7 linked regions of the Homo sapiens genome follow. The protein of the gene in region 2 purifies or fractionates together with the protein of the main gene of each other region. This does not show direct contact. Each region holds a gene or a part of one and is shown on either strand. Other genes may lie near its edges. The genes, in order: COPS7B, BTBD1, AMY1C, RABGEF1, AMY2A, TRAPPC9 and TRAPPC10.

The links.
Region 1: the proteins of BTBD1 (region 2) and COPS7B purify together in Homo sapiens (affinity purification with mass spectrometry; 2 studies listed by BioGRID and IntAct, with this or other methods). This does not show direct contact.
Region 3: the proteins of BTBD1 (region 2) and AMY1C purify together in Homo sapiens (affinity purification with mass spectrometry, with the first as the bait; one large-scale study listed by BioGRID). This does not show direct contact.
Region 4: the proteins of BTBD1 (region 2) and RABGEF1 purify together in Homo sapiens (co-immunoprecipitation; one large-scale study listed by IntAct). This does not show direct contact.
Region 5: the proteins of BTBD1 (region 2) and AMY2A purify together in Homo sapiens (affinity purification with mass spectrometry; one large-scale study listed by BioGRID and IntAct). This does not show direct contact.
Region 6: the proteins of BTBD1 (region 2) and TRAPPC9 purify together in Homo sapiens (affinity purification with mass spectrometry; 2 studies listed by BioGRID and IntAct, with this or other methods). This does not show direct contact.
Region 7: the proteins of BTBD1 (region 2) and TRAPPC10 purify together in Homo sapiens (affinity purification with mass spectrometry; 2 studies listed by BioGRID and IntAct, with this or other methods). This does not show direct contact.

What each region holds. Positions count from the first base shown.
Region 1 is NC_000002.12:231,803,445-231,806,598, reverse strand, and holds part of COPS7B (COP9 signalosome complex subunit 7b), read right to left. Parts: intron 1-3,154. UniProt on the Homo sapiens protein: Component of the COP9 signalosome complex (CSN), a complex involved in various cellular and developmental processes.
Region 2 is NC_000015.10:83,019,088-83,022,252, reverse strand, and holds part of BTBD1 (BTB/POZ domain-containing protein 1), read left to right. Parts: intron 1-1,490; coding exon 1,491-1,578; intron 1,579-3,165.
Region 3 is NC_000001.11:103,748,644-103,752,697, reverse strand, and holds the start of AMY1C (alpha-amylase 1C precursor), read right to left. Parts: upstream 2,801-4,054; 5' UTR 2,632-2,800; intron 2,275-2,631; 5' UTR 2,229-2,274; coding exon 2,061-2,228; intron 1,716-2,060; coding exon 1,569-1,715; intron 766-1,568; coding exon 568-765; intron 120-567; coding exon 1-119. UniProt on the Homo sapiens protein: Calcium-binding enzyme that initiates starch digestion in the oral cavity.
Region 4 is NC_000007.14:66,792,733-66,796,232, reverse strand, and holds part of RABGEF1 (rab5 GDP/GTP exchange factor), read right to left. Parts: intron 723-3,500; coding exon 641-722; intron 1-640. UniProt on the Homo sapiens protein: Rab effector protein acting as linker between gamma-adaptin, RAB4A or RAB5A. Involved in endocytic membrane fusion and membrane trafficking of recycling endosomes. Stimulates nucleotide exchange on RAB5A. Can act as a ubiquitin ligase.
Region 5 is NC_000001.11:103,616,273-103,620,226, reverse strand, and holds the start of AMY2A (pancreatic alpha-amylase precursor), read right to left. Parts: upstream 2,801-3,954; 5' UTR 2,787-2,800; coding exon 2,619-2,786; intron 2,274-2,618; coding exon 2,127-2,273; intron 1,317-2,126; coding exon 1,119-1,316; intron 674-1,118; coding exon 443-673; intron 1-442.
Region 6 is NC_000008.11:140,370,745-140,374,244, forward strand, and holds part of TRAPPC9 (trafficking protein particle complex subunit 9), read right to left. Parts: intron 437-3,500; coding exon 220-436; intron 1-219. UniProt on the Homo sapiens protein: Functions as an activator of NF-kappa-B through increased phosphorylation of the IKK complex. May function in neuronal cells differentiation. May play a role in vesicular transport from endoplasmic reticulum to Golgi.
Region 7 is NC_000021.9:44,078,309-44,081,808, reverse strand, and holds part of TRAPPC10 (trafficking protein particle complex subunit 10), read right to left. Parts: intron 2,246-3,500; coding exon 2,105-2,245; intron 1,795-2,104; coding exon 1,682-1,794; intron 1-1,681. UniProt on the Homo sapiens protein: Specific subunit of the TRAPP (transport protein particle) II complex, a highly conserved vesicle tethering complex that functions in late Golgi trafficking as a membrane tether.

The sequences.
Region 1 (3,154 bases), on a different chromosome or scaffold from region 2:
GTCAAATAAGTAATAGCTTTTTTAGTCTTTTTTTTTTTTTTTTTTGGAGACAGAGTCTTACTCTGTTGTACAGGATGGAGTATAGTGGCACAATCACAGCTCACTGCAGCCTCAACTGCCCAGGCTTAAGTGATCCTCCCACCTCAGCCTCCTGAGCAGCTTGGACCACAGGCGCTTGCCACCATGCCTGGCTAATTTTTAAAAACTTATTTGTAGAGACAAGGTTTCACCACGTTGTCCAGGCTGTTTTCAAACTCCCAGGGTCAACTGACCCTCCTACCTTGGCCTCCCAAAGTGCTGGGATTACAGGCATGAGCCACCACACCCAGCCAGTTTTCTACATAGTGAAAAGGAGTTGTCAGGGTCAAAAGTTCTCAACAGTCAGAATATTATGAGCTTGAGGGTAAGAGACAGTCCAAATGCAAAGACAAAACAATGCTATGAGGGTGAGACAAAAATTGGGTTCCTGGAGGAGAGCCATCATCTGCAGAATCCACCTTAACTAGATCATAAATTGTTTTTTGTTGTCACTATTTTGAGACAGGGGGAAAAGCCATGCCCTAAACTTCTGTAACCTCAATCAACGCTGTAGCCTTTCTGAAGAGAGAATGACAGAGGACTGTGGGCTGGAACAGTCATTACAGAGGGCAGGCTGGGCATGGTGGCTCACACCTATACTTCTAGCACTTTGGGAGGCTGAGCAAAGAGAATTGCTCAAGAGCAGGTGTTCAAGACCAGCCTGGGCAACATAGTGGGACCCTGTCTTTCTTAAAAAAAAAAAAAAAAATTTTAGCCAGGTATGGTGGCATGCACCTGTAGTCCCAGCTACTCAAGTGGCTGAGGCAGGAGGATCGCTTAAGCCCAAGAGGTAGAGGCTACAGTGAGCCATGTCTGCACCACTGCACTCCAGCCTAGATGACATTCAAGTAAGACCTTATCTCAACAAAAAGACATAAAAGAAAAAAACATGTGCCTGGTGTGGTGGCACATGCCTATAGTCCTAGCTATTCAGGAGGCTGAGGCAGGAGGATCACTTAAGTCCAGGAGTTTGAGGCTGCAGTGAACTATGATTACACCACTGATTCCAGCCTGGGTGACACAGCAAGACCCAGTGCCTGGAAATATATAAATATATATATATATATATATATAAAATTTAAAAAAAAATATATATATATATATATAATAAACAGGGAGGGGAATTCAACTCTGGGTTTATCCAGTGTCCTGCCAGACAACAAAACACAATCTGGGAACCCCAGAACCCTGAGGCATCTCGCCCTCCCAGCGGCTCACTGCCACTTTGGTGTACCTCATTCAGTGAGTCACCTGGCAAGGTGGTGAGTGAATGATCTGGAGCAAGCCAATGGCTTATCACTCTTTCTCTGATAAAAGAAATATTATTTGTTTTAAGACTTTTTTTAAAAAATAGAAATGGGATCTTGCTATGTTGCCCAGGCTGGTCTCAAACTTCTGGCATGAACCAATTTGCCTGCCTCAGCCTCCTAAGTAGCTGGGACTACAGACACATACTATCATGCCCAGCTAAGGCATATTTTGATGACATTGGAGGAAAAATTAAGAAATTTGACTTCTCAGGGAACACTGCTTTATAAAATAACATTCTAAGGCTTCTCCAATTTGATATATTTTCTAAATATCCAGAAGAAAATGAACTAAAATCATAATAAGAGGTAACGACATGACTTTAGTTTATTTATTTGCATGTCAGTTACCTCTAACTTCCAAAGAAGATCCTGCAATTTAACATTACCTGAGGGAATGTGTTTTAAAGTCTCCCCAAAAGCTGACAAAATTTTAATCAAATAAGACATTAGAAAACAAACAAGTTTTTGTTTCAAGGACTGTATTTCCAAAATGGGGTATCTTTCCAAGCAAATAATTACCTTTCCCATTTGGCAAAATAGCTTTATTAAAAATTAAAAAAACAAAACCAAAAAAAATTCCTAATTTCATCTTGTCTGATAAGCACTATTTAGCCTTATTTCCTCAAGTTATTTGTGTAATAATTTTTACTAAACAATCAGCTTAGGCCAGGCACAGTGGCTCACGCCTGTAATCCCAGCACTTTGGGAGGCTGAGGCAGGCAGATCACGAGGTCAGGAGATCGAGACCATCCTGGCTAACGCGGTGAAACCCCATCTCTACTAAAAATATAAAAAGTTAGCCGGGTGACGTGGCGGGCACCTGTAGTCCCAGCTACTCGGGACGCTGAGGCAGGAGAATGGCGTGAACCCGGGAGGCAGAGCTTGCAGTGAGCCAAGATCGCGCCACTGCACTCCTGCCTGGGCTACAGAGCCAGACTCTGTCTCAAAAAAAAAAAAAAAAATCAGCTTATACTACAAATAGTTTTCTACATTATTTAACATGTCTTAGATTTACTGACAGTCTCATAACCCCTGCATGAGTAAGGAAAAGGCATTAATCAATCCCCAAATAATGGTTATATTTTCAATCCGCTTCACCTATGTTTTTGTAGCATAAAGTCATTATCAGCCTATCAGAAAGTGACAACCGGCATTTATTTCTCTCTTTAGAGTGGCCCAAGGTGATTTGGGCCGGCTTTGGACTCAGAGTATCTATGGCTGGGCTGAGTGATGAGTCCCTGACCTGCCAGCCAAGGAGCAAACTCTGCCTGTGGCACATCCACCAACGGCAACGCTCCGCTGCCAGCCTCTCAGCAACTGACCAGTTCAACTGACTCCCAAGGCTTTGCTGTTTTACTCTTTTTCTTTTCAAAGCTCAACACTTCCAATGCTTCTCCTTCACAGAGCCACAAACTCATGGTTCTCACTCTGGTCCTGAGGGAGCCCGCGCATCATCCTTCTGCAGTCACAGAAGGGCTGACCCTCTGCTTCATTTCTGTACTGCCACTCCCTACCATAACGCAGCCTCCCTCTCTCATGGTGACTCAATTCTATTTAAAAGCCTTTGAGATTCAAGATCCTGTCAAAAGCTTTTGAACAAATAAGTAGACAGAAGCATGGACACTTTCCCCTGTTATTCAGATGCCTATTTACTTCCTCAAGCCATTTTCTCCTGTAGAAACTGCTCTCATTCAGCTTTTTTAGGGGCTCAGTAACCCTGACATGCAATAAAAAGAAATAAGACTTGGCCCAGGGAAAAACTTGGT
Region 2 (3,165 bases):
GTTAGACTCCATCTGTAAAAAAAAAAAAAAAAAAAATTAAACTAGCAAGGAATGGTGGAGTGTGTCTGCAGCCCAGCTACTTGGGAGGCTGAGGTGGAAGGATCACTTGAGCCCAGGAGTTCAAGCCTGTGGTGAGCCATGATTGTACCACTGTACCCCAGCCTCGGCAATAGAGCAAGACTCCATCTCTTTAAAAAAAATTACATGTTTGTAAGCGTTTAAGGTGATCTTACTGTACCAGATGTTCAAAATAGTACTGTTATCTAGCTTATAGGGCTGTTACGATGACTAAAGGAAATAATTCTGTAAAGAACTGAAGTTCAGTGCCTGGCACACTAGGAAGTACTCATGAAGTGGTATTGATGAGTTAGTATTACTAATAATTGAAGGTGTTGCTGACAATGTTGAGAGTTACTCAATGTAATTTTGCAATGTAAGACATTATAATTATGTCAGATTTTACAGGCTTTTAGTTCCATATGTATTATTATTATTATTATTATTATTATTTGAGAAGGAGTCTCGCTCTGTCACCCAGGATGGAGTGCCGGGTCACCTGCAGCTTCCTTCTCCCAGGTTCAAACGATTCTCCTGCCTCAGTTTCTCTAGTAGCTGGGATTACAGGTGCCTGCTATCATGCCCAGCTAACTGTTATATTTTTAGTAAAGACAGGGATTTGCCATGTTGGCCAGGCTGGTCTGAAACTCCTGACCTCAGGTAATCCACCTGGCTCAGCCTCCCAAAGTGCTGGGATTGCAGTGTGAGCCACCACACCCAGCCTCAGTTCCATATGTATTTAATGTCAGTTTTTATTCATTTACAAAATGGAGTAAGATGGGTCAATATTTCTTAACTATTATGACCAAACTGGACTTGTTAATTATTCTAGTTAGGAAACTGCATTCGAATCCTGTCCCATCCCTCTGCTACCAGTATTCTGTTAGAGTAGCCTACTTCCTTCACAGCTCTTGTTACAATTTGTAATTATTTATTTATTCCTTTCTTGCATTATCAGTGTCCTCCATTAGACTGTATGCACAATGCAGGTAGAAACTGTCTTGTTGACCATTACTTCCGCAGTGCCAAGCCTAGTACCTAAATATGATAAGCCCTTAGTAAGTATTTGTTGAATTGATAATTGTCGTAGTTTGAGATGCTGGGCTTCAGTCCTAATGGCTGAGATGTCTGCGTTCATGAAAAAGATGTACAAATATTTGGACTCGTATAGCACTAAAATTATCATTACAACAAAAGTGGGTATTTAGGTTAAATTCTTTTACAAAACCAATTCTTAGGTTCCTCTTAAGTTCAAATCTGCTCTAGAAAGCTTTTTGGTAAGCAAACAGATGACATTTCCAAGGATATCTAATTTGTTTTCCTTTTTATAAGCAAAACTGGATGTTCCAGGTTACACTTAAAAAAAATTATAACCCTTCAGAATATGAACACATGGGATTAATTATATTTTATTTTTGGCTTCTTTCTCTCAGATTCACAGTTAATAGAAGGATCTCTATAGTTGGATTTGGCTTGTATGGATCTATTCATGGCCCTACAGATTATCAAGTGAATATACAGGTACAGTTTCCTCCCCCACCATATATCATTTTGAAATAACACAAACAGGTAACTTTAAGATATTGTTTTGACAGAATCCAAATTTCAATATAATTGTCAAAGCAATCAGAAGGCCCCTTAGTAGCATTGTAAGCATAAAGAGTTCTGTTTTAGAGTTGATCTAAAAAGTCTGGTTGCAGAAAATTGGGGTCCTTCACAAAAGCAGTAGCATATAAGGAGCTCTTCTTTGTCCAGGAATCCCTTCTATTAGTACTTCCTGCTGTGCAGTCTTAAAACATCCTCCTGCCTTTTTCATGGCCCTTTCAACTCTAGGACTGAAACTAAATTTCTTGTAACTGGTGTGAGCATCCTGTGACTTCCAAGGGGCTGAGCAGACCCTGCTTTATTCTTGGTTACTTTTTTTTGAGACAGGGTCTCACTTGGTCGCCCAGGCTGAAGAGCAGTGGTGCGATCACAGCTCACTTCAGCCTTAATCACCCAGGCTCAAGCAATCCTCCCACCTCAGCCTCCCAAGTAGCTAGGACCACAGGTATGTGCCACCATGCCCAACTAATTTTTCTTTCTTTTTTTTTTTGTCTCGCTGTGTTGCCCAGGGTGGTCTTGAACTCCAGGGCTCAAGTGATCTTCCTGCCTTGGCCTCCCAAGGCATTGGGATTACAGGCATTAGGCCCCTGCTTCTTTTTTTTTTTTTTTTTTTTTTTTTTTGAGATGGAGTCTTGCTCTGTTGCCCAGGCTGGAGTGCAGTGGCGCGATCTTGGCTCATTGCAAGCTCCGCCTCCCGGGTTCACACAATTCTCCTGCCTCGGCCTCCTAGCACTTTGGGAGGCCAAGGAAGGTGGATCACGAGGTCAGGAGTTTGAGACCAGCCTGGCCAACATGGTGAAACCCTGTCTCTACTAAAAATACAAAAAAATTAGCTGGGCATGGTGGTGCATGCCTGTAATCCCAGCTACTCGGGAGGCTGAGATAGGAGAATTGCTTGAACTGGGACCTGGGAGGCAGATGTTGCAGTGAGCCAAGGTCATGCCACTGCCTTCCAGCCAGGGCTACAGAGTGAGACTCCGTCTCAAAAAAAAAAAAAAAAAGACACCAGGCTTCTTGTGTACAAACTGTGGGAGGGCATCAGGATTATAGGTACATTAAAATTATGAAGTATAAATACTGTGAGTAAAATAATAGAAACAGTCTGGGCGCAGTGGCTCAGATCTATAATCCCAGTACTTTGGGAGGCCGATGTGGAAGGATTGCTTGAGCCCAGGAGTTCCAGACCAGCCTGGGCAACAGAACACGATCCCATCTCTACAAAAAAAATGAAAAATTAGGGCTGGGCGCAGTGGCTCACACCAGCACTTTGGGAGGCTGAGGTGGGCAGATCGCTTGAGACCAAGAGTTGGAGATCAGCCTGGCCAACATGATGAAACCCTGTCTCTACTAAAAATACAAAAAAATTAGCCAGGTGTGGTCGCGCACATCTGTAATCCCAGCTACTCAGGAGGCTGAGGCACGAAAATTGCTTCAGCTTGGGAAGTGGAGGTTTCAGTGAGCCGAGACCCCAACACTGCACCCCAGGCTAGGCAACAGAGTGAG
Region 3 (4,054 bases), on a different chromosome or scaffold from region 2:
ATTCTGAACCCTGCAACACCAATGTCAATGAGATGGTTCATATATTCGGCAATCTTAGAACGCACATAATCCTTCCCCAGTGCAAGATCGAGAAGACCAGACAGACGACAATCTCTGACCTGTTGAGGTAAGAATGTTATGATTGATTAATAAAACCTCACTTTTCGCCTGAGAATCCATTTGATTATTCATTTATTCCATGATTCCTCAAGAGATATTCTATGGTGACTTCCTTGCATTGGACACTGGGGATGCTCACATTCTACTATAGATGTATCTTGGAAATATTTTCTAATAGAAAATAGAGAACTTAGGAAATAAAGTCGATGAGTTTTTCAATTGGTTGGGAGCTTTTTAAAAGTGGACAAATGTGTATTGATTAAAAATCTTAAATCAATATTTAAAGGTTTTCAAATATGGATTTGAGTTTCTTAAAGTAGTCAAACTTGTTAACCTCTGTCCCTAAGAGATCTAAATTCATATTTACAACGAAGTTCAATTAGCTACATGTCTACAACAAAAGGCATATATCACTCCTTATTCAGATCACTCTCGTAAAAAAATTACCTGAGTAGCATCATTATAGTTCTCGATATCTCCACTTCCAGTTTTACATTTACCATCATTAAAATCCCATCCAGAATATGGGACTGCTGGAAAGTCCCTACTTCCAGGGTTGAAGTAACTTCCACAGGTACTGCTTGTTCCTGCACTCACAGCATTACCACACATATGATTAATTACAGCATCCACATAAATACGAACCTAGAAAACAAAGTTTCTAATTCAGTGTGACTTACAGAGAGGCAGAAATTTAAAGAATTATTGATTAAATTTATAGTGTGCTAATAAAATTCCAAAATATTTCATACCTTATAACTATTTTCCTACAAGATCAAAAATCAACTGTGAAAGGAAAGTAATGTGAACTAAACACCTACATTCATTCCAGACACTTGGCCAAATATATATAGGAATGATAAACTGAGAGAACCGGAAACTACCATAAATAGGAGGAAAGGCAAAAAGCCCATTTTGGGGAGACACAACTCAGATGAGACTGAAAAGGTTACTATTTGGGAAATTTCAGTGGGTCACCAGGAGAAAGCCTGTACTCTCTACTAAGCTTGGAAGACAAATAAGGTAGCTATTCATCTCAAATTCTGCTCCTCATTAAATAGATAAGCTACCTATTCACCACAAAAAAAACCCAAGAATTAGGAATGGAGACACAAGTCATCTAAAAATGAGAGCAAATATTGTAACTGGAATTAAAATTCCTCACCAGAAAATCCTTCCAGGAAATATGGATAGTTATAGCGGTTAAAATTTGATGTTTTGCTTCAGAAGTAAACTCTGCTATAAACTTTAACTTATCTCTTTAGTAGAGAGCACATATACAAATATTTTCAAAAATTGAACATAAGGTGACAGTTACTTTTGAGTTTTAAAGTATGAAGTAAAATTAAAACTGATATGGAAAACTTTCTGCTCAAAAGGAGCAAGAAAGAAGAGACAGAAATCATTTTCCTATCTGTTATTTTTAAAGGAAACTAGAATTCACTTACCCCAACATTGTTGCATCTAGTCACCATGTTTCTAAATTCATCTTCATTTCCAGATCTTGTGCATAATTTATAGCTAACTGGTTGGTATCTTTCCCACCAAGGTCTGAAAGGGTTGTGAATGGCAACATTTTCATTTGGTGGAGAGACCTACAAATTAAACAGTCTTCATAAGTACCAAATTCTGTCTTACTGTATATCATTGAATGTTCTAGAATCTAATCAATAATACAAAAGATTCTTGAATCTTGGTATAGGCAGCTATCTCTTGAAAATATTAACAGCACATCGGAGGGCTCTTGTTGAAGAAAGATTATATCAGAAACAAAATATACAGTTGCAAAGAATACTACATTGTTTTTTCCTCAGAAAATTCTTTTACTTAGAATACTTACCTGTGAAGTAAAATGTTGCCCAAGCTTCACGTAGAAGATCAGAATAGTGTTTACTACAAGCACAGTGAATTCTGCAATTGATACTATGAATCATACCCACCTGAACCCCTCCAAATCCCTTGGGAGCTAAATATCGCTCACATTCAAGAGCAATATCAACCCATCGCCATTCAAACAGATGAACAATAGATGTTCGTCCTTGTTGTGTATTTGAGGAATACTGAGCCCAGCAGAACCCAATGGTGAAAAGCAACCAAAAGAGCTTCATTTTGCTTTGAAGTTGTCAGTGTCCTTTCCAGAAACTATTTATATTCCTGTAAGAAGCACATTTTACAATGTAAATAGTAGCATGAATAAATACTTGAGGGCAAACTGTTTATTCATAATCTGAAAAGGATTATCAATAATAATCCTAACTGGTGAAGAACATCAAAAAGTCTCTCATGGAAATCATCTCAATGACCTCTTAGACATTAATGTTTCTTTTCTTTTCTTTTTTTTTTTTTTTTTGCATATGGTAGCACTTTTATTTTTCCTTACACAATGACATGTTGCTGTGGCCTAATGTTCTCACATAACAGCAGAAAACCAAAATTTGTTGTCAACTCTTAAAAGATCGAGAATTGCATACTAAAAAACTTTACATAAATTAAAAGGATGAATACATTTACCGGTATAAATGCGAACCGCTTCCAACTCAAGGCAAGTAACAGCCCACGGTGCTCTGGTAGATAACGTAAGCTAAGAAAGGAAACTGGGTCCTATGGCTTGGACTTTCCAACCCTGACAGACCGACAAGACGGAAACAACTGGTTCAGGAGCCCTTCCCAGCCTCTAGATAAATCTCAGAACACTCAGCCCTGACACATTAATACCCTGCACGGATCAGAGACTGCTGACCACACAGACTCACCAAGCCAGACTTGTCTTCCACAAGCACGTTTTTAGCCATGAAGTGACCAAGCCACGTGTACTAAACACTGACATCAAAGGTATGTACAGATACCAAGGGGAAGAGTTAACTTGAATGCCAGGCCAAAATCAGCAACAAGTTCTACAATCCAGTGCTGATATTGAGAAGAGAGAAAGACCCTGTCCTCTTGTTTTATATTGTTTTCTATTCAGTAAAAACAACAAGGAAGCAAAATCAAAGGCACAAAACCAGGCCTGGGCCTGGTTGGCCTAAACCCAGTAGTTACAAATCAACTTATGATTTAGAAGCCGATGTTATTCATAGATTCCAGACATTGTATAGAAGAACATTGTGAAACTCCCTTCCATATTCTGTTTCTCCCTGACCACGGGTGCATGTAGTCCTTGTCGCATATCCCTGGCTTGTTCAAATCAATCACGACCCTTTCATGTGACATCTTTAGTGCTGTGTGCCCTTAAAAGGGACAGAAATTGTGCACTTGGGGAGCTCGGATTTTGAGACAGTAGCTATCCGATGCTCCCAGGTGAATAACACCCTTCCTTCTACAACTCGGTGTCTGAGAGTTTTGTCTGCCGCTTGTCCTGCTACATTTCTTGGTTCCCTGACCTGGAAGCAAGATAACTGATGGACGGCCGAGGCAGCTCCTTAGGCAGATTAGGCATGCCTTGTGGAGTAAGGCCGGGGCATCCCTCAGGCTGCCAGGGACTCTGGCCAGCCTGAGGGATGGGATCCAAAGAGCGCTCCCAGGTAGGAAATGGCCCCGGTTGAACGCCTCGCCAGAGCAGTGATCCCCGCGGAGGATTAACACAGTGGCTGAACACCAGGAAGGAACTGGCACTTGGAGTCCAGACATCTGAAACTTAGTAAGACAAGTCTTTTCAACTTGCCCCACTCCACCTGAGCGGAAGCTTGGCCTGATCGCTCATGGTGTGCCTGCACCCATATCAATTTCCATATAGAGATTCCTAGTTACAGCTAGTTTTAGATCCTCTACAGTGGTAAAAGGACAGGCAGCAGCAGTAGTAGTAGCAAAGGGACATTTATTTCAGGAAAGTTCTCGCTCCACCGGCCAAGAGAAGCCAGCACCTAAAGTTCTGTTTGACCCAGAGCTCGAGGACTCAAGGCAGGAGATGGCACCAACAGTGCCCTCAACCCCTTAT
Region 4 (3,500 bases), on a different chromosome or scaffold from region 2:
TTAATACAATAACTCACCAAAATGGTGATTCCAAGATGGAAAATTCATTTAGCAAAGCCTTCCAATAAGTTTTTCTCTTTCTCTCTCTCTTTTTTGAAGACAGAGTCTCGATCTGTTGCCCAGGCTGGAGTGCAGTGGCACAGTCTCAGCTCACTGCAACCTCCGCCTTCCGGGTTCAAGCAATTCTTGTGCCTCGGCCTCCCGAGTAGCTGGGATAAGAGGTGCACCACAACACCCGGCTACTTTTTGTATTTTTAATAGAGGCGGGGTTTCACCATGTTGGCCAGGCTGGTCTCGAACTCCTGGCCTAACGTGATCCGCCTGCTTTAGCCTCCCAAAGTGCTGGGATTACAGGCATGAGCTACTGAGCCAGGCCCTAAGATGTTTTCGTCAGCTCCAGCCCTGCCCCAATGGAGTTATTAAATGTTACTCAATAAATTATCCAATTGCTCCTGGAAAGATACGCATGGTACAGTTCAAAGGCACTGCTAAGTATAAGACCAGTTCCCAGAATGTCCATGAGGTTACAGGATGAAGTCTACAAACCAGCCAGACCATCAGAGAAAGAAAGAAATTGCTAAGAGACTGAGCAGTCATCCCTGTGCAATACCCGCAATCTCTCAATGGCTAACAGTGTTACCTTTCCCACGAGTTTGCATCCTTTCGGCCACATTGTGGTAGAAATCCTGAGCACACTCTGACTGTTCTTCAATGCTTAGATCCTGAAACAGAGAGACAAAGAGGCTGCTTGTAGCTGAACAAAGTGCAGAAGCACAGCTCTACATTCTAAGAACTTTCCAAAAGCCATTCCTTGTACTGGTAGTAAGCCTAAAAGTACTCACAGGTTATATTAATCCTGCAGGAGAGTAAAACCTATCCATTAATATTATTTCCAATATCCATTGTTGCCGGACTTTTCCTTAGTTCAGCTAAAGACGGGATCCTTGTCCGTCTCACAGCCACAAAAATTTAGGCTCGCAGGCGGTTTGAATGGTGGGTAAGACAGGGTTTTATTAGGTGAAAAGGAAGAAAAGGGGGAATCCGAGACACTCACAAGGCCAGAGTCCCTGCTAGAGTGCTTCCTGCCAGCAGCTAGAATCCTGGGCTCCACACAGAAAGAAGAGGGGCCAGGCTCCTCCCTGCTACAAATGGTGCAAACTTCCCAAAACTCCACCCCGGTGGGCAGGCTGGCTGGAGTTTTTCCGGGGACCCCTTCCCACCTAGCGGTCTCACCATGACCATCTCATTCTTTTTGCTAAATCTACGTATTCTTAAATAGATTTAATGCATGTTTTGATAATTTACATATTTTATGTACATTTCTATTTATCTAATCCACTGAATCATTTCTGGTGGCTTTATAACACTGCATTATATTAACTGACTTCTTCGACTCTCCTCTACCACTGTGCATTTGAGTTGCTCCCCCTCTTTCACTGTTGTGCACTGTAGGTATAAATAATTTTGTAAGGACTATCTTCTTTTCGGTTCTCTGTCATACATTTCCAAAAGTGGCATTAACCGCTTAATATGAATAAACAATGTTATAGCACTAAGTATCTATTGCTAGCCACACTCCTCAGAAACTCAGTGCACACTGTCATTAACCACGTGTATGCACTTACTTCCCTATGGCCCTTACAACATTGGGCTTGATAATTTTTATTTGGTTTTACTGATTTTATAGGTGTAATATATGTATTTGTTTCTCACTTTCTGCCAAAGAATATTTAAAGGCTATTTAAAAGATAAATGCAGTTCAGCACAAGAGACTAGAAAATAAAAAGAATAACAAATAACTGTAATCCCAGTGCTCTGGGAGGTTGAGGCTAGAGGATCGATTGAGCCTAGGAGTTTGAGGCCAGCCTGGGCAACATAGTGAGACCCCATCTCAAGAAAGAAAAGAAAAGAGAAGAGGAAAGAAAGAAAGGGGAGAGAAAGGAGAGAAAGGAAAGAAAGAGAAAGAAAGAAATTAAAAAATTTTTTTAACAATAATAAGTAAAAAAAAAAAAAAAAAAAAAAAAATTAAACATGGAGAGAGACCTAAAGCAGAGCCACAGATGACAAGACAGAAATGTTTTCCTGGAAGATGTCTAAATTAGTCAAGAGTCAGCCCATACATCTGTCTCTAACTAAATTTTTTAGCAACCATCACTAGGATGAAAACAGTTATGTAATTCAGGGTTCAAAAGATGAAAGCAAACAAATTATTCGGGTGAAATTCTGACACCAAAATCAAAAATTTCTCCCAACGGTTCTCATAAGGATGTCACAGTAGAAGAACATGAATAAGGCCGAGAACAAACCCCCAGGACGGGCTGTCACAGACTTCATCTACACAGGCCACTGACCTCACACGCCAAGGGCCGATACATCCTGTGGAAGCCCACAGCAGTCTGACCATCTGGCTTAACTCTAAAAGGATGGCAGGACACTTGGGGTCAGGAGCAGTCACCTCATTCCCTCAGTAAAAATGGCCAAGCACTCATGGCACTTTGTGATCACCTTGACTGCAGCCCTTGTTACTGTCAACTAGTTACCCATATACATGCACACACTGCAGTGCTCAAATCTATCCTTCTACTTCAAGTATTTTATGCAAAAGCTTATCCATTCAATCTTTTTAGGTAGTTTACACATGGTTTTACACCTTTCATTTGCACCAAATTTTAGCACTTAACTTAGAAGAAACTATATTCATTCTTGTGATTATTACTACAGATTTGAGCATTCCTAACCCAAAAATAAAAAATCTGAAATGCTCAAAAATCCCAAATTTGTCAGTGTCGACATGACACCACAAGTGGGAAATTCCACACCTGGCCTCATGTGATGATGGGCTAGAGTCAAAAAGCAGCCAAAACTGTTACATGCACAAAACTGCTTAAAATGTGGTATAAAATTACCTTCAGGCTATGTATGTAAGGCATATATTCAACAAATGAATTCTGTGTTTGGACTTGGGTCCCAGTCCCAAGTTATCTTATATATGTGTAAATATTCCAAAATCTGGGAAAACCCCAAAATCTGAAACACTTCTGGTCCCAAGGCTCTCGGATAAGGGATACTCAACCTGTAGTGCTCGCTTCCAACTAGAAACTCTCTGAGCTCCTTTTAGAGACCCGAGAGGCCTGTCTTACTGGTGTCAAGGGATCATATTCTCCTCCCCCAGCCCAGCACAACCCCTGTAATTTTACAATACAATGCCGAAAACTCCTTTTCTATTTCTACTGCAGTTTATGCTCCAGTACAGTATTGCTTTCATAATGTAAAAGAACTCACCCCTGCCACTGTCTCTCATCCTGCTTTCCATTCTTGTAGGACTTAACACTATGTTACAGATCTGCTTATTGTCCATTTCCCCAACTAAAATGTTAGCTCCACAAGGGCACTGTTCACCACCATATCCTCATGCCTAGAACAAGGCCAGGCACAGGGTTAGTGCTCAGTATGGGTTGAATGAATAAATGTGGCCATTTATTACCATTCCTCCCTTTATA
Region 5 (3,954 bases), on a different chromosome or scaffold from region 2:
TCAACAGGTAATATTCTTATATTCTTTTATTTGATAAAGTATAGGCTACAATATTGAAAGAAGCATAATGTCAAAGATACCTGTTGTCCTGTGAAAATACTTACCTAATTTTTAGTCTTCTACATCAATGATAATAATAAGAGCTCACACTAATAAAACATTTAGTATCGACTGAAATTCCTTGATAAATATTAACTTGTTTCATTATCCAAAGAAAGTAAAGACATAACTATTATCAGTATCCTACATTCTGTGTACCTCCATAAAACATGTTGTGATAAAGAATTAGATATGCTGTATGTGAAGAAGAGGAGGTTAAAGAACACTGTTTTATGTAAATGTCTCATTCCTTATCCTACAGAAATTGCATTTTTAATTAAATCTTCCATTAATTTTCTAACGAATAAGATGATATTTTATAGGCATATAAGTATTGATGTACCTCCTGGTAAATGAAAGGTTTACTTCCTGCAGGGAACCAGTTACTGTTTAGATTATGCAGTTTGTCCAAAATTGCCTTTATGTCTCCAGGCCACATGTGCTTGGAAGCATCAAGTCTGAACCCTGCAACACCAATGTCAATGAGATGGTTCATATATTCGGCAATCTTAGAACGCACGTAATCCTTCTCCAGTGCAAGATCAAGAAGACCAGTCAGACGACAATCTCTGACCTGTTGAGGTAAAAATGTTATGATTGATTCATAAAACCTCATTTTTCTCCTGAGAATCCATTGGATTATTCATTTATTCCATGATTCCTCAAGAGATATTCTATAGTGACTTCCTTGCATTGGGCACTGGGGATGCTCACATTCTACTACAGATGTATCTTTGAAATATTTTCTAATAGAAAATAGAGAATTTAGGAAATAAAGTCGATGAGATTTTTAATTGGGAACTTCTTAGAAGTGGGCAAATGTGTATTGATTAAAAATCTTAAATCAATATTTGAAAGTTCTTAAATATGGATTTGAGTTTCTTAAAGTAGTCAAACTTGTTAACTTCTGTCCCTAAGAGATCTAAATTCCTATTTTAAATGAAATTCAATTAGCTACATGTCTACAAGAAAAGGCATATATTACTCTTTTATTCAGATCACTCTCGTAAAAAAATTACCTGAGTAGCATCATTGTAGTTCTCGATATCTCCACTTCCAGTTTTACATTTACCATCATTGAAATCCCATCCAGAATATGGGACTGCTGGAAAGTCCCTACTTCCAGGGTTGAAGTAACTTCCACAGGTACTGCTTGTTCCTGCACTCACAGCGTTACCACACATATGATTAATTACAGCATCCACATAAATACGAACCTAGAAAACAAAGTTTCTACTTCAGTGTGACTTACAGAGAGGTAGAAATTTAAAGCATTATTGATGCAAGTTTATAGTATGTTAATAAAACTCCAAAATATTTCATGATATCTTATAATTATTTTCCTACAAGATCAAAAATCAACTGTGAAAGGAAAGTAATGTGAACTAAACACCTACATGCCTTCTAGACACTTGGTCAAATATTTATAGGAATGATAAATTGAGAGACCAGAAACTACCATAAATAGGAGGAAATGCAAAAAGCCCACTTTGGGAAGACAAAACTCAGATGAGAGTGGAAAGGTTATTGTTTTGGAAATTTCAGTGGGTCACCAGGAGAAAGCCTGTACTCTCTATGAAGCTTTTGAAGACAAACAAGGTAGCTATTAATCTCAATTTATGCTCCTCATTAAATAGAGAAGCTAGCTATTCACCATGAAAAACCCAAGAATTACGGATGGAGACACAAGTCACCTAAAAATGATAGCAAACATTGTAACTGGAATTATACTTCCTAACCAGTAAATTGTTTCCGGGAAATACGAACAGTTATAAGGGTTAAAATTTGATGTTTTGCTTTAGAAGCAAATTCTGATTTAAACTTTAACTTACCTCTTTAGTAGATAGCACACACACAAATATTCACAAAAGTTGAACATAAATAAACAGTTAATTTTGAGTTTTAAATTATGAAGTAAAATTAAAAAAATAAAATACGGAAAATTTTCTGCTGAAAAGGAGCAAGAAAGAAGAGAGAGAAACCATTTTCCTGTCTGTTATTTTTAAAGGAAACTAGAATTCACTTACCCCAACATTGTTACATCTAGTCACCATGTTTCTAAATTCATCTTCATTTCCAGATCTTGTGCATAATTTATAGCTAACTGGTTGGTATCTTTCCCACCAAGGTCTGAAAGGGTTGTAAATTGCAACATTTTCATTTGGTGGAGAGACCTACAAATTAAACAGTCTTCATAAGTACCAAATTCTGTCTTACTGTGTATCATTGAATGTTCTAGAAACTAATCAATAGTATAAAAGATTCTTGAATCTTGGTATAGGCAGCTATCTCTTGAAAATATTAACAGCACATTGGAGGGCTCTTGGTGAAGAAAGATTATCTCAGAAACAAAATATAAAGTTGCCAAGAATACTACATAGATTTTCCCTCAGAAATCTCTTTTACTTAGAATACTTACCTGTGAAGTAAAATGTTGCCCAAGCTTCACAGATAAGATCAGAATACTATTTCCTACAAGCACAGTGAATTCCGCAATTGATACTATGAATCATACCCACCTGAACCCCTCCAAATCCCTTCGGAGCTAAATATCGCTCACATTCAAGAGCAATATCAACCCATCGCCATTCAAACAGATGAACAATAGATGTCCGTCCTTGTTGTGTATTTGGGGAATACTGAGCCCAGCAGAACCCAATGGTGAAAAGCAACAGAAAGAACTTCATTTTGCTTTGAAGTTGTCAGTGTCCTTTCCAGAAACTATTTATATTCCTGTAAGAAGCACATTTTACAAAGTAAATATTAGCATGAATAAATACTTGAGGGCAAACTGTTTATTCATAATCTGAAAAGGATTATCAATAATAATCCTAACAGGTAAAGAACATCAAAAAGTCTCTCATGGAAATCATCTAAATGACCTTTTAGATATTAATGTTTTTCTTAGGTTCTGGCAGCACTTTTATTTTTCCTTAAACAGTGACCTGTTGCTGGGGCCTAATGTTCTCACATAACAGTAGAAAACCAAAATTTGTTGTCATCTCTTTAAAGATCCAGAATGGCATACAAAAAAACTTTACATAAATTAAAAGGATGAATACTTTTACAGGTATAAATGCGAACCCCTTCCAACTCAAGGTAAGTAACAGCCCACGGTGCTCTGGTAGATAACGTAAGCTAAGAAAGGAAACTGGGTCCTATGGCTTGGACTTTCCAACCCTGACAGACTGACAGGACAGAAACAAGTGGTCCAGAAGCCCTTACCAGCCTCTAGACAAATCCCAGAACACTCAGCCCTGACACATTAATACCCTGTACAGATCAGAGACTGCTGGCCGCACAGACTCACCGAGCCAGACTGGTCTTCCACAAGCATGTTTTTAGCCATGAAGTGACCAAGCCACGTGTAGTAAAGACTGAAATCAAAGATATGTACAGATACCAAGGGCAACAGTTAACTTGAATACAAGGTCAAAATCAGCAACACATTCTACAATCCAGTGCTGATATTGAGAGGAGACAAAGACCCTCTCCTTGTTTTATATTGTTTTCTATTCAGTAAAAACAACCAGGAAGTACAACCAAAGACATGCAGCCCAGCGCCAGGCCTGAAACCAGGCCTGGGCCTGATTGGCCTAAACCCAGTAGCTAAAAATCAACTTATGATTTAGAAGCTGATATTATTCACAGATTCCAGACATTGTATAAAAGAACTCTGTGAAACTCCCTGCCCTGTTCTGTTTCTCCCTGACCAGCAGTGAATGTAGTCCTTGTCACGTATCCCTTGCTTGCTCAAATCAATCACGACCCTTTCATGTGAAATCTTTAGTGTTGTGAGCCCTTAAAAAGGACAGAAATTGTGCACTCCGGGAGCTCAGATTTTGAGACAGTAGC
Region 6 (3,500 bases), on a different chromosome or scaffold from region 2:
CCACTGATAAAGATTCAAGAATCCGAGCCCCAAGGCAAAGCACCAGTACTTTTTCCTATAATCGGATTACAGCAGGCACCCAACTCCAGGGCAGGGATCTAGTCATTCTGGAGCCACCAGCACCAACCACGATGTCTGCCACTCAGGGCAGGGGCTGAAACAGCATGTGACCATCAGACAGAAAGCAACACCTTAGCGCCAGCAAGGGGACTCCAGTACCTCTGCTGAAATCTTTGGGATCCAGCGACAGACTGTAGCCGGGCAGCGTTTCCAGGAGGAGTTTGTAGCAGGCCCTCCACCCAGGCTCCGCGATGCTTGGGGCCACGCACTGCATGGCGGCCACGCGCTTGAAGAACGCAGACTTGCGATGGAAGCCGATCAGCTCATAGAGCTCGGAGAGGATGCTGTAGCGCTGAATTTTCTCTTCCTCAGAAAGCTGAAGCACAGAGAGAAAGTAAAAAGCTTTTGAAAGAAACGTATAAGTGAAAAAAGAAGCACACATTAAAAATGTCTCTTCATAAAACAAAGACCTGAGGAGAATCGAGGAGAATCAAGGAGAGGGAAAGCCTGGTGAGCAGCGCATGGCGCAGGCCCCAGGTGGCTTCAGACCTTCCCCAGCCACAGCTGCAGGTGCAGCCCATCTTCCTGCTGATAAAGCCCAGATTCTCTGCTACAAAGGTACCTGCTACAAATCTGAGACCTCTACTTTAAGTTCCTTCACAAAAGAAAAGAAAAGGAACAAGAGTTCATCTACACAACAGGATTTTATCAAGGTCTCTCATCAAACACAAAAATTCTTAAAACACAAGAAGACACAGAATCATGTAACTGGGTAATGAATTATTAACAATACCACTGATATCAGACTTAAGACTTCAGGGTTTACAAAAGTTTTCTTTCATCCAAGACCCAACTGAATCCTCCCAACAACCCTGTAGTGTAGCAATCATAACTTCTGTTTCTTTTCTTTTTTTTTTGAGACGGAGTCTCACTCTGTCACTCAGGCTGGAGTGCAGTGGTACGATCTTGGCTCACTGCAACCTCCACCTCCCGGGTTCAAGAGATTCTCCTGCCTCATCCTCCAGTGTAGCTGAGATTACAAGCACCCACCCCCATGCTGGCTAATTTTTGTACTTTCAGTAGAGACGGGATTTCACCATGTTAACCAGGCTGGTCTCGAACTCCTGACCTCAGGTGATCTGCCTGCCTCAGTCTCCCAAAGTGCTGGGATTACAGGTGTGAGCCACCACGCCCAGCCAACAACTTCTGTTTCTTCAGCACCTACTGTATGGCAGCAGACTTAACGTACCTGATTTACTCAATACAAGCATCCTGTGAGCTGGCAAATAAGGACATTAACAGCTCAGGGACACATTAATCACCTGTGCAAAATCACACAGCCAAGAAGTATCAGGGACAAGACCTGACTCTGGGCCTGGGCCCTGCCCACTGCACAGCGCCTTCAGAGAAGAAGGAAGGCAGAGCCCACTCTGCTGCTCCAGGAGCACTGTTAAGGAAGCGCTTCTCTCCCTCCTCTGCCCTGGACGATGAATGTTTCCCTGATGTTTCTGTGAGTACAGAGCCTTAGCTTGAACGCCCTTCCAACTTGGGCCTCCAAACCCTCCCTCCATCCCCTCTCCTCCGCGCTCACTGCCATGGCCTCGATGGGGCCCTCGTCAGCCCTCATCTGGAAGAGGAATCGGCATTGTCTTCCTACCACCTCTCGACCTTCCTTCACCTGTCCACACACCCCTGCCAGACTTAGGTTCCTGAGACATGGCTCAGAGCCCATCACCCGAGCCACGGTTTGAATGTTTGTGCCTCCCCAAAATTCACATGTTGAAAGCCTAGCCCCCAAGGTGATGGAATTAGGAGGTGGGGACTTTAAAAAGTGATTGGGTCAGGGGGTGAAGCACTCACAAATGGAATTAGTGCCCTTATAAGAAGAGACCCTAAAGAGCTAGCTCACCTGTTGCACCATGTGAGAACACAGAGAAAAGACGGCGGTCTATGAACAAGCAAGTGGGCCCTCCCCAGACACCAAACATGCTGGCACCTGGATCATGGACTTCTAGCCTCTAGAACTGTGCACAATACATTTCTATTGTTTATCAGCCACCCAGTCTGTGGCATTTTGTGACAGCAGCCTCACCGGACTAAGACAATCCCCATCTTGAAACCACTAGACCCCTTCAGGACTGTAAAATGGAGCCCAAATGCCTTCACGGGCATGCCAGGCCCTCCTCAGCCCCAACCTGCTCTGGAAATTCGAGGCCCCACTGCCTACCTATGACCTCACCAGACTGAACAACTTTAACTCATTTGTTTTCTCATTCTGTCAACACATATTTACTGAACCCCTACTCTGGTGCCAGCCACTCTTGTGGCAGAGGATACAGCAGTGAGCAAAACAAGCTAAGACTCCTACCCCTGGGGGCCTCCATGCTAATGACAGGCTAGTCCCCTGGCTTAGAATCAGTGGGGAGGATGACAATAAATCAATGAAAAAATAAACAAAATAGCTGCTCTAAGTCCAATGAAATACTCTTTGACATAGAATCATGGGTGGAAGCGTATGAGGCAGGCTGTACTAGGTGACGCCGCCGGGGCACACAGGCTCTCTGCTCCTGCAATGCCTCCACAGCCACATCTGGCTCTCCCTTTGGACACTCGGTTCCAATGCCACCCTCTCCAAGAAGCTGGTCCTCATGCCCTTCAGCGGGAAGCTGCTGCTTCTTTCCCTAAATTCTCCTAACCATGCTGGACTCCATAATGTCCTTTCTCTGTGTCTCCCACACAATTTACCTACATATCGGATCTCTGCCAGCCCCACTTTTCCTACAGTGAAAGGTCATGCCGACGCCGACGATGTGTGAGAATCCCTGTTGCTCCACCTGCTCACCAGCATATGAGGATATCACCTGCTCACCAGCATATGAGGATATCACCTGCTCACCAGCATATGAGGATATCAGTCTTTTTTATTTTAGACGTTGTGGTGGCTTTAACTTCCATTTCCCTGAAAACTAATGATGTTGAACCTTTTTCATATGATCACTGGCCACTGGTATATCTTCCTTTGTGAAGCGCTTGTTCAAATCTTCTGACAGTTTTTAAAATTAGATCGTTTGTTTTATTACTGAGTCGTACGAGTTCTGTATATATTCTGAATGCAAGTCCTTAGTTATATGTGTTTTGCAAATATTTCCTCCCGGTCTGTTGCCGATTTATTTCCCTAAGGGAGTGTTCATAAGCAAAAGCATTTCTCTGTGATGTAGCTCAATCTATCAGCTTTTTCTTCTATGGTTAGTGCCTTCTATGTCCTCATCTGAGAAAAATCTTTGCCCGAGGTCACAAAGATATCCTATGTTTTCATCTAGAAGTTGTTGTCTAGGTCTATGGTCCGTGAATATTCAAATTTGAGTAGGACATGGCCTGTCCCTTTCCAGGAGTGTGCAGTACAGCAGCGAACAGAAGCCCCAGTGCTGGAGGACAGCAGC
Region 7 (3,500 bases), on a different chromosome or scaffold from region 2:
CTCCTGGGCTCAAGCGATCCTCCTACCTCAGCCTCCTGGGTAGCTGGGACTACAGGTGCCCGCCACCACACCTGGCTAATTTTTTGTAGAGACAGGGTTTCGCCATGTTGCCCAGGCTGGTCTCAAACTCCTGACCTCAAGTGATCTGCCTGCCCCGGCCTCCCAGGGCAGGCAGAAGTTCCTAGAAGTTTCAGGGTCAGGTTGATGTGGTTATTGACTGCTGGGGTGTATTCACTTACAAGCATCTGGGGCCCAGCGTGGTGGCTCACGCCTGTAATCCCAGCACTTTGGGGATTACAGTATGGGGTTTCTTTTTAGGGTGATAAATATGTTTTAAAATTGACTGTGGTGGCCAGGCATGGTGGCTCACATCTGTAATTCCAGCACTTTGGGAGACCGAGGTGTGTAGATTCCTTGAGCTCAGGAGTTAAAGACCAGCCTGGGCAATATGGCAAAACCATCTCTACTAAAAATACAAAAATTAGCCAGGCATGGTGGTATGCTCCTGTAGTCCAAGCTACACAGGAGGTGGAGGTGGGAGGAGCAATTGAGCCCAAAAAGCAGAGGTTGCAGTGGGCTACAATCATGCCACTGCACTCCAACCTGGGAGACAGAGAAGAAAAAAAATAGCTGGGTGTGGTGGCCCACACCTGTGGTCCCTGCCACTCAGGAAGCCAAAGTAAGAGGATCTCTTGACTCCAGAAGGTTGAGGCTACAGTGAGCTGGGATCGTGCCACTGCACTCCAGCCCAGGCAAGAGAGCAAGATAGTCAAAAAAAAAAAAAAAAAAAAGAAAAAAAAAAAGAACAATAATATTGACTGTGGTAATGGTTGCACATATTCCTGAAACAGACTAAAAGCCATTGAATTATAAACTTCAAATGAGTGAATTACATGGTTTGTGAATATCACAATAATGCTGTTACATTTTAAAAAAAAAAAAAAGCACCATCTTAAAAAATGAAGAAAAAGACTGGGTGCGGTGGCTCACATCTGTAATCCCAGCCCTTTGGGAGGCTGAGGTGGGTGGATCACCTGAGGTCAGGAGTCTGAGACCAGCCTGGCCAACAGAGCAAAACACTGTCTCTACTAAAAATACAAAAAATTAGCAGGGCATGGTGGCGGGCGCACGTAACCCCAGCTACTTGGGAGGCTGAGGCAGGAGAATTGCTTGAACCCGGGAGACGGAGGTTGTGGTGAGCTGAGATGGCACCATTGCACTACAGCCTGGACAACAGAGCGAGACTCTGTCTCAAAAAAAAAAAAGAAGAAGAAGAAAAAGAGATGGGAAGAACTTTTTTTACATTAAAAGAGAACTGAGATCTAACAACCACATGTAATATGTGATATCCTGTTGGACTCCATTAAAAATGATTTATAAAATACTTTAAGACAATTAGGGAAATATGAATATGGCCTACTTAGCAGATGATATTAGAACCTTATTAATTCTTTGGGTGTGGTTAAGAGACTGTCCTTATTTTTAGAAGATCTAATGTGGTCTAGAGTTTGACTTAAAGCAAAAATAAAAAAAAAAGTCAGGTGAAAGACATAGATACATGTCAGCTACACAGCAAAATGTTAGCAACTGTTTACTGTAAGTGGTTGGTATATCTTGTATTCTTTTTTACTTCTGTAATATTTGAAAATATTCCTAGTCAAGTTGTAAGAACTGGTCTTACCTGGGCTGTCTGACGGCTGGCTGGCAAAGTCAAGTATCTCCTGGCAGAAGTGCTTGCGCTCCTCTTCAGTGAGGTGGTGGTCACTGGCTAAGAGGCTGCTGGTCTGCAGGTAGCTGGAGCGGAGAGGTAAGGAGCGTGGAGAGGCTCATACTTAGGAGTGCGGGGGGAAGTGGATGCAAAGTCTCCTACGGCCTTCACAGAGGCTTCAAAAGCCAAAGGGCTTTTTTTTTTTAAGTTACTAGGGCTCAAAATTAGATTATAAAAAATCGACTAGACATTTCATTCATTTTCTATACAATACATATGTATAAGTTAGGACTTTTCTCTCCTTAATAATAGGTGTGAATGAAACATTGATTGTGGGCAATGTTGCCGTATAAACAGAAAATAATTTTCCTGCTTCATGAAAACATTAAAGGATACTTTTCAATTTGTCCAAGGTGCTTTTGACATTCGGCCAGCTGCTTCCTTGTGTGTGTGATGGGGAGTGCCCAGCCCTCAGCCAGGTAGTTTTTCAGTGCTCCTTGAAGATAGATTTCTGCCTTTTGTGGAGCCTTTTTCCTCCTTGCAAAGTCAACAAACAGTAGCTTTCATTACAGCTAGGGATAATCAACACACTGAAACCCCATCTCTCCCGCTTTGGCCTCCATCCTCCAGACCCCATGCCAGGACAGACTCAACATCTCTAGATAGCCCTTTTCCACCCACCCCACTCCGTGAGAAAGAGTACCTACTCAGGACGACATAATTAGACTCCCAGGCAAAGATCTGAGAAATGAGCGTGTGGTGATAAGAGCACAACACATCGTTGGTCTGGCTTTATACACATGTCGAGGAACTTTCATAGCTGAATCTCAGGATAAGAAAGTGAGCCTATCATTCATGATCTCAAGCTGACAGGCAAGAGGGCCAAGGCTAAGAGAAGGTGAAGGAAGGGCTTGTCCACAAGTACACTGCTAGTCAGCAATGAAGCCAGGAAGTCCAAGTATGGGTCTACACTACCTACTAAAGGCACAGAAACACAGAAGCAGTCTACAGGGCGCAAGCGGAAGGGAGCACAGAGCCACTTGGAAACTCAGGCAAAGAGCACTCCACAGGATCCAGCTTCCAGAGAACGCCGGAGAATTAAAATAGCCACACTTGGCCCCCAAAGCAAAGTTTAAAGCACAACTGTTTTTTTTAAAGATGGGGTCTTGCTCTGTCACTCAGGCTGGAATACAGTGGTGTGATCATAGCTCACTGCAGTCTCAAACTCCTCAGCTCAAGTGATCCTCCCGCCTCAGCCTCCTCCACTGTAGCTGGGACTACTGGTGTGTGCGGCCTTGCCTGCCTTTAAAATGCAAATTAATAAGGGCTTGTCAAAGCCTCAGGAGCAACAAGGATCCCCTCCCCTTTCCCGAGAAGCCTCTCTGCTTCCTTAAGGAGCACCTTCCTCTTCAGATACACAGCATGGAAGTTCAAGAGAGCTACATTCTAGCTGTGACTCTGCTGTTAACCAGTGGGTAATCGGCAAAGCTGCTCCAACCACATCCGGAAAACCAGAAAGTTCACTTAGCTGATCTAAGAATCCCTTTCCAGCCAATTCACATCAGTTCAAATCAATTCTCATTTCTTGCTTCACCTAATGAAATCACTTGAGTACAGATTTCAAGATCTCATTTCAATCACTTTTTTTTTTTTTTTTTTTAGAAAATGAAAACAAGCATCTTTTTCCTTATAGCTTGTATCTCCTTTGAGTACTCTGAAATGGTAACCACATGACCCACTGGGGTTTCTTCTCTTTGATAGTCTGATTTTATGAAACACACCAGAAATACGC